Linked DNA regions of Homo sapiens: regions 1 and 3 are each linked to region 2. Evidence: fine-mapped QTL for protein levels in blood plasma. A gene starts in region 2. Each other region holds a variant in brackets. All regions are shown on one strand. Distances are from middle to middle. Region 1 overlaps LINC01502 (long intergenic non-protein coding RNA 1502). Region 2 holds the start of PAEP (progestagen associated endometrial protein). Region 3 has its middle 9.5 kb from the start of OBP2A.

The links. PIP is the posterior inclusion probability: the model's chance that the variant is causal. Protein levels are from antibody-based Olink assays in UK Biobank. Linkage for the fine-mapping came from a reference panel and not from the study's own genotypes, which makes the PIPs less certain.
Region 1: its variant is fine-mapped to the plasma level of the PAEP protein (UK Biobank, PIP above 0.99).
Region 3: its variant is fine-mapped to the plasma level of the PAEP protein (UK Biobank, PIP above 0.99).

What each region holds. Positions count from the first base shown.
Region 1 is chr9:135,578,964-135,581,725 of GRCh38, reverse strand. The region is part of intron 2 of LINC01502 (long intergenic non-protein coding RNA 1502); the gene reads right to left. The region is part of intron 1 of LOC105376316 (a long non-coding RNA gene); the gene reads left to right. Among named protein-coding and RNA genes, the nearest start is that of LINC01502, 5.4 kb to the right of the region's middle. The variant C/T (reference allele first, on the strand shown) is at 1,644.
Region 2 is chr9:135,560,164-135,562,925 of GRCh38, reverse strand. It overlaps PAEP (progestagen associated endometrial protein), which reads right to left and starts at 1,170. Exons shown (of 7, transcript NM_002571.4): 1 at 1,029-1,170; 2 at 493-632; 3 at 33-106. The coding sequence starts at 1,124.
Region 3 is chr9:135,535,240-135,538,001 of GRCh38, reverse strand. No RefSeq gene overlaps it. Among named protein-coding and RNA genes, the nearest start is that of OBP2A, 9.5 kb to the left of the region's middle. The variant G/A (reference allele first, on the strand shown) is at 1,620.

The DNA.
Region 1 (2,762 bases), 19 kb before region 2:
CTATGATTCCATTGTCATATATAATGGAAGAATTCTACAACTCACCATAGTGTAGAATCGGTGGGAGCCCTGAGCTCATTTTCCTGCAACTGGACTGTCCCATCTAGGGGGTATGGGAGACAGCGACAGATCATCAGGCATTAGATTCTCATCAGGAGCTTGCAACCCAGATCCCTCACATGCGCAGGTCACAGTAGGGTCCCCGCTCCGGTGAGAATCACCCACCAGAGCATTTGTGTTTCTGCTTCTTGTTCCTTCTCTATGTCTCCAACTTTCCCCCATGGCCTCGCAACAGCCACGGGCCCACAGTGCCACACACGGTAAGATATCTGATAGGTGGCTCAAACATCCTGGACTTGTTCCTCTTTCTTCTTGTACTTTTTAGGCATCCATCCCTAACTCTAACCCACACCAGGGGCAGCCTCTGTGTCTTCGAGGGACACCTGGATCCCTGTTCAGGCAAAGGGGCCTGGCTGCCTCTCCACACTCCTACTCCTCACTCAGCACGCGGCTCCAAGCGCGCCTCCTCCAAGGAGTCTTCCCTGGATCGGGCAGGGCCAGGTCCCTTTGGGGTGCACCTGCATCAGCACTCAGGCTCCTGGAGGCATCCATCTGCCCCTGTCCTGAGGCATGGTGGAAATGGCAGGGCAGCTTTTGCCAGCTTTCCAGTCTCCAGCCCACTGCTGGCCACAGGGGAGGCTCCAAGGTGTTTGTGGATGAAAGCGAATGAGTTGCCAGCAAAGTTGCAAAATCCAATGCAGCGTTCATGTTTCTCCCTGGACTCCCCGGACTCTGAAGAAGGCCCTGGGTGTGTCATCTCTGCCTCTAGCCCCAGTGCATCAGAGCAGTGCCCCATGGTTGACAGTGCTGAGCTGCGTGGACCTCCTTAGGGCCAAAGGCTGGGGTGCAAGGGCTGGCAAGCTCAGCTGGATGCTTGGGGACACTTGGTCTCTGGGCATCTCCAAGAAACATACATTTAATACCTGGGTGCAGACAAGGCTGTTGAGAATCTTGTGCCCCTAGGATTTGGGCTGGGGCCTTGATGTAAAGCGAGGGAGGGAAAAAGTCACCTGACACCCAGTGTGAGCCCTCTGGCTGTGACACTCACTCTTCCCAGAAAACGCTGTTCCTCCGTTTCCCCGCTTCACAGGTGTCCACCGCCCCTCCCTTGTCTGCAGGGAGCGCAGTCTCAAGGTAAAGTGAGCACACCTGTGTCTGATCGTGGTCACATTGGCTGCTTTCTGTGTGACCTTGAACACAGAACACCACCTTCCTGAACCTCTGTATTCTCACTTTCAGGACAAAAATATCGCTCTCATAAGAGGGTTTATGAAGGCGAGGGTTGCAGGAAAATGCTTCCTCTATGTTTTAGTTAAGTCTCTGGGGTTCTTTGGGCCTGTTATTTTCTGGTTTGGTTCTCACACAGTGAAATTCTACACATGGTCTTGAAGCTTCCAGCTGTCTCATTAGCAATGCTAGCTGGGGACCTTTCACAGGTGCAAGAGGGAACTTCGTTCTGAGAGGCTATTTGCAGGAAACTATTAGCTAAATGCTAAAACCATTCACAAGAATAAAACACTAACAGTGGGTCCAGATGGAGAAGCTCATGTGGATAGTTGCACCTGTAACCAGACACAGCTGGG[C/T]TTCAGTGGTTTGCTTCGGGGCACAGTGACCTACAGGAAGGTAGGGACTGCTGTATGTGTGCATTTTGCTGCTGTATCCACAGAGTCTAGAATGGTGCACTACCTGATCACCATGCCATGAATATTTGTTGGTAAATAAATGGATGGACAATGGATAATGAAAGGGTGGATGGTGGATGAATAGATAGTGAATGGGGGATAATGGAAGGGTGGATGGTGGATGGATAGTGAATGGGGGATAATGGAAGGGTGGATGGGTGAGAGATTGGGGATGAGGGTAGATGGATAGTGGGTGGATGATTGTGGGTGGATAGATGAATAGAAGGATGGATAAATAGTGGATGATGGACGGATTTATGGATGAATGAATGAGCGGTGGATGGATTATGGATAGATGAATGGGGAAGCAGAGAGGTGGATGAATGGCTGGATGAATAGGTAAATAATGGATGGAAGAATGGATGGATGGAAGATGGGGGATGTAAGTCAATGAATGATAGATGGATGAAGGTGTGGATAGATGGATGGATGGGTGGAAGATAGACAGTGGGTGGTGAATTGGGTGTGAATGGATGACAAGTGGACTCATGATGGTAAGAGGGGTATGTATGGCTGGATAGATGAATGGACTGATTATGGTTGGATTATGGTGAATAAATGGATGGTGTATGGTTGAATGGAAGGATGAATGATGGATGCATATGTGGGTTGATAGATAAATTAATGGATGAATGGGTGGATAGATGGTGGATGGGTGGATGTATGCATGGATGGTAGATGAATGAATACTGGTTGGGGAATGGGTGAAAGATGGATGATGGAGTGGATGAATAAATCGTGGGTGAATGGGGGTGTGAATAGATGAAGAGGTGGCCAAATGGCTAGATGGATGGGTGGAAGATAAATGGTGGATGGATGGTGGATGAATTGATGGTGGTGAAGGGGGAATGAATGGTAGATGAATGAATGGAGGATAGATGATAAATGCATGTATATATCCATAAATGGATGAATGAATAAATAATGGAATAAATGGATGAATGGATGGATTGGTGGGTGGTGGGTGAATGAATGGTGGATAGATTGATGGATGAATAGGTGGGAGGATGGGTGAATGAT
Region 2 (2,762 bases):
TGAGCCAGCCCTTGGGGCCTGGGGACACTCACAGTTGATCTTGAACTTCTTTGGATTCTCAGTCTTCTCTCCAAGGACCTTCTTCTCAACACAGCTGTTGTTCTCCCTGAAAGGTGGTGACAATAGGATGAGTGGCCACTTGAATTGGAGTTGCCTTCACTGTCACTCCTAAAATCAGGTCACCACGGGAACTTCCCCGGGTCCAAGGAGCACCGCAGCCCGCAGCCGCCCAGACCTTCTCCTCAGTCTGACCTGGGGCTGCACTGTGTGGTTGGCTGTTGGCCCAGAGCCTGGGGCAGGGGATCCAAGGGGACAGGGAACGTCTGGAGCCCTGGTTTTCCACCCCACCCTCATGGAAGGGCCACAGTGAAGCCCCTGGCTGTCAGAAAATGCCTGGGGCTAAGTCCAGCTCCGCCCAACCCACCCAGTCCTGGACCCCTGAGGGGGGAGACTGAGCCCCCGCCCAGCCCGTCTCAATGATGAGAAACCCACCATCTGTGCAGAACGATCTCCAGGTTGTCCTCGGGGGTGGGCAACAGTGAGGTGATGTGGACCCTCAGAGGGGCCTTCAGTGTCGCCATGAGGGAGATGTTGTTGGTCGCCATGGCCATGGAGTGCCAGGTCCCTGCCAACTGAGGGGGCCTTGGGCTGCACGGCGGTCCCACCCCACCATGGCTCTCGTTGCACCCGGTGCAGACGGGGCTGAGTCTAACTGGGATGGGTACAGTGAGCATTGGATGGTTGTCTGCTATCTACCAGATCCTGGGCTATGAAATTTCCTGTACTTAAAATGACCAGTGTGTGCTAACTCAGGAGTGTTCCAAAGTCCAAATAATGAGTCACCTAGGATGCTGGGAAACCAGAGAGGCCACCCTAAAGATGGAGAGCAGGGCTGAGGGCTTCCTGACGTCATGGCGTCCATTCTGTGCTTCCTGTAGGTTTCTGAGATCCTGGGCTTCCTGCCTGCCCGCAGCTCCCACCCGCCCCAGGCCTCCCACAGTAAAGTGCCCGCTCCCCCAGCCTCAAACCTTTGGGAGCTCCAGGTCCTGCTTGGTCTGGGGGATGTCCATGGCCGGGACACCACAGACCAGGGCCACGCCCAGGGTGAGCAGGAGGCACAGCATGGCTGCGGCTGTGGGTGGCTCTGAGCTCTGGAGCCAGAGGGATGCTGAGGCAGTGTGGGCTCAGGGGGCCTTATGTAGGAGGAGGGCAGACAAGATCCCCGCCCACAGCCTCGCCATGTGATTCCTCGAACCTGTGACTCATCCTTGGCCCCTGGGCAGCTTCCTCCACTGGGGCAATGGGAGGCTCTTCCCTGCGTCCACGCGGGAACCTCCTCTGTGTCCGGGCTGGGCAGTTCTTGGCAGGGCCTCAGGCGGGAGGGGCCTGGGTCGGGTCCAGGCTGGCAGCGGCGGGAGCACCTTCTGGGTTGGGGCTCCTGGACAATGTTGGGTCAGAGGCCAGCACTGAGGACAGCTGTGTCCAGGGCAGGGGTATGGCCTGTGGGGCAGGCAGAGGGCCTGAGAGCCCCATGGCTGCCCCAGGATGCCACAGACATCATGCCAGTGGGTGACTGACTGCACGGTCATAATCCTGACCTGTACCTTCCACTCAGACATCCCCAGGTGTGCACACCTGTGTCCCTCAAACAGCCAGCCTCTGGACAGGTGCACACTGCCTGTTAGCACTGTTTCTCTCTGACTCACAGGCAAGACTGGGTGGAAATGGGAGGCAGTGGACTTTCAGACTTTGTCCTACAGTCTATATTGGATGTACTTTTTCCCACAGGGAAGCATCACTTTGTAACTTACAATCGAGCCCGCATCTCACTCCCTGGAGAGCACTTGAGTCCTGAGGCAAGACACGGGTGTCCACTCCCACTCCCCCATCCATCAGAGCAGGTCATTCCGGCCAGAGCAGCTAGGCAAGAAATGGTAACTAAAGGCAGGCAGATTGGGAAGGGGGAGGTATACCTGTCTCTATTCGCATATAACATCATTGCCCAGGTACAAAATTGCAAGAACTCTACAAAACCCCTCCTAGAACCGAGTGAGGTCAGCAAGGTCAATCGCACAAAAATCCACCGTGTTCCCACACAGTGTCAAGGAGTAGACAGAACCCGAAACTGGAAATTCAGGATTTGTAATCACACACACAGCATGTAGGCAAAAATCTCACCAAATATGGACAGGACTTAAACTCTGAACCCAAGGAAGGGAAATCAAAGACCTAAGGTAAAGGACAGGCACAATGTGTTCATGGGCTGGAAGCTTCAACACAGCAAAGGTGTTAGCTCTCCTCAACTCAACCTAGAGATTTAATGCAATTCCTATCAAATTCTCAGCAAGATATTTTGTAGGTAGCTATAGACATGTGTGTGACACACACACACACATATATACATATATACATTTTTTTGAGGCCAAGTCTTGCTCTGTTGCCCAGGGTGGAGTGCAGTGGTACGATCTTGACTCACTGCAACCTCTGCATCCCAGGTTCAAGTAATCCTGCTGCTTCAGCCTCCAGAGTAGCTGGGATTATAGGCGCCCACCACCACACCTGGCTAATGTTTGTATTTTTAGTAGAGAGGGGTTTTCACTATTTTGGCCAAGCTGGTCTCGAACTGCTGACCTCAAGTGATCTGCTCACCTCGGCCTCCCAAAGTGCTGGAATTATAGGTGTGAGCCACCACACCCCACCATATGTAGATATATAGAGAAATTTTTTTTTCTAAAATTTACATGTCAAGGCAAAGGAGCTAC
Region 3 (2,762 bases), 25 kb after region 2:
TGGTATTATCCACACAATGAAATATTATTCTGTCATAAAAAGAAATAAAATACTGACACATGCTACCACGTGGGCAAACCTTGAAACATTATGCTAAGGGAAAGAAACCAGTCACAAGAAACACATATGTATGATTCCATTTCTATGAAGTGTGCAGAACAGGCAAGTTCATGCAGACGGGAAGTAGATGAGAGGTTCTGGGGTGCAGAGGGAAGAATGGGGGTGAGAGCGGACGGGCGTGGGGACCTTTGTAAGATGATGAAGATCTCCTGGATTAGATAGTGGTGATGGTTTCACAGCCTTGTGAATTTACTGAAACCCACTGAATTGGGCACTTTTAAAGAGTGAGTATGATGGCATGTGAAATATATATCAAATAAAAATTTTAAAAACCACCTCCCCAGAGAAGCCTCTCCAGGCTACACAATGGAAGATGCAGCCCCTACTCTCCCTGTCACTTCCCTGAGCTGCGCTCCATTACGACACATCACTCCCCGGAGACACCCTGTTCATTTCCTTGCAGTCCTATTGATTGCCAATTCCCCCCATGGGCAGACTGAATAATGGTTCCCTGAAGATGTCCACATCCTCAGCCCTGGCCCTGTGGATGTGTGTATGTGGTAGACTGAATAATGGTCCCCTGAAGATGTCCACATCCTCATCCCTGGCCCTGTGGATGTGTGTATGTGGTAGACAGAATAATGGTCCCCTAAAGATGTCCACATCCTCATCCCTGGCCCTATGGATGTGTGTATGGTAAAAGGGACTTTGCAGATATAATTCAGGAAGGATCTGAGATGAGCAATTAGCCTGGATTATCTGGGTGGGCCCACTGTTATCACAGGGGCCCTTATAGGAGAGAGGCTGGGGAGCGAGGGAGGGAGAGAGAGAAGGGTGGGGAGAGAGAATATTTATGAACAGAAGTAGAAGAGGCTGTGCTGCTGGCTTTGAAGGTGGAGGAGGGGCCACAAGCCAAGGCATGTGGAGGCCTCTGGAAGCTGGAAATGGCAGGGACAGATTCCTCCCCAAGAGCCTCCAGAAGGAACCAGCCCTGCCAACCTTCGTTTTAGCCCCGTGAAACATACTGAAAAGAAGAGCTGGAATGAAGCATCTGAAGTTCTCTCAGCAAAACCTGCATGCTCGGTTGTGGTTGTGGGTTTTTTGACCAACAAATGAAAGCGTTCTAAGACCCCATGCACCGTCGGCTGAAGGGGAGCGTGAATATCTGTTCCCAGTCCCAGCCTCACAACCAGAGGATGCATTTCTTCACGGTTTTCTCCTGCAGCTCAAGGAGGGAAAGCACTTGGAATTATTTGACTTCTCCCCCTCACTCAGTGGAACTTTGGAGTCGTTCTTCCCACCCTTGTCAACCACAGGGCTTTCTCATGTCTACAGGCGCGTGTGCAGATTTCTTGGGTGTGCACAGATGCAGGGAGGGCATCTCGTCGATGGAAAATGGGATACTCATGGGCACGGCATGAAGTGACACCACAATTCCCTAAATTGTTTGCTGTGGTTGCTCATTGGGACGTGGCACCCACTGGAACCAAGGCTTTGGGAAGCCAACTGGCTGCTGTGCTTGGCCACAAACGTGGTAATCATGACTGCAAGGAGAAGGG[G/A]GCGGGGGCTGCCTGACTGATCTGGGGCTTTCAGAAAGGAAATGCCAAGGTCTGAGCTTGAGTAACAGGCAAGACACTGGAGACATTCCATCCTGACCATAGAATAATATTTCATTCTTGCAGCCACAGAGCAGAAATGGCTGAAAATCAGACTCCACATTTAATAGTGTGGGTTGCATGGTGAGTTGGATTCAAAAGTCGCCAAGTGTTTTATGTGAAAGTTGGGTCACTGCTTAAGGAGTGGGACCATGACACACAGAACTGGGACATTTATGTGATCTCAGATGGAAGTGAGAATCTTGATCCCCTCCCCAATCCCCCTGAACCTGCCGGGGCAGAATCACCCCCTCCTCCCCTCCCCAATCCCCCTGAACCTGCCTGGGCAGAATCATCCCCTCCTCCTTTGCGTGAGGAGATGAGACTTCCCTTTCTCAGACATCTTACCCCGAGGCAGTTGTGTCGGGATGGATTCTAGGGGCTTTACACCAGGAGAACCGCGCTCCGATGTGGACCCAAGCTGAGTGTGTCAGTGCGTATGTGCTGAGTGTGTCAGTGCGTATGTACTGAGCACGGCAGAGCTCTCAGCATGGATCGGCTCCACCCAAGCCCCTGCACCAGGAGACAGGAGATCGCCAAGCTCTCATGGCATCCAACAGCAGGAGGCGCATCCCTGGGGTGGCCCCAGCCCCCTAAATGCTTGCCTGAGAGCTCGGCACTGCAGGTGAATTTGCTGTGTGTCCTGGCCAGCACCCAGCTGCCCCTTCTTAGAGCTTTTGCTAAAAAGGGCTTACACCTGTGACTCCTTCCTCTGCCCCTTTGAGAAGTCTATTTCTCCTACAACGCAGAACTCTTTCTCAGGCTGGGTATGGTGGCTCACATCCGTAATCCCAGCACTTTGGGAGGCCAAGGTGGGTGGATCCCTTGAGGTCGGGAGTTTGAGACCAGCCTGGCCAACATGGTGAAACCCCCCCCCCCATCTCTATTAAAAATACAAAAATTAGCCAGGTGTGGTGGCAGGTGCCTGTAATCTCAGCTACTTGCGAGGCTGGGGCAGGAGAATTGCTTGAACCTGGGAGGTGGATGAGGTTGCAGTGAGCCGAGATCGCACCACTGCACTCCAGCCTGGGTGACAGAGCAAGACTC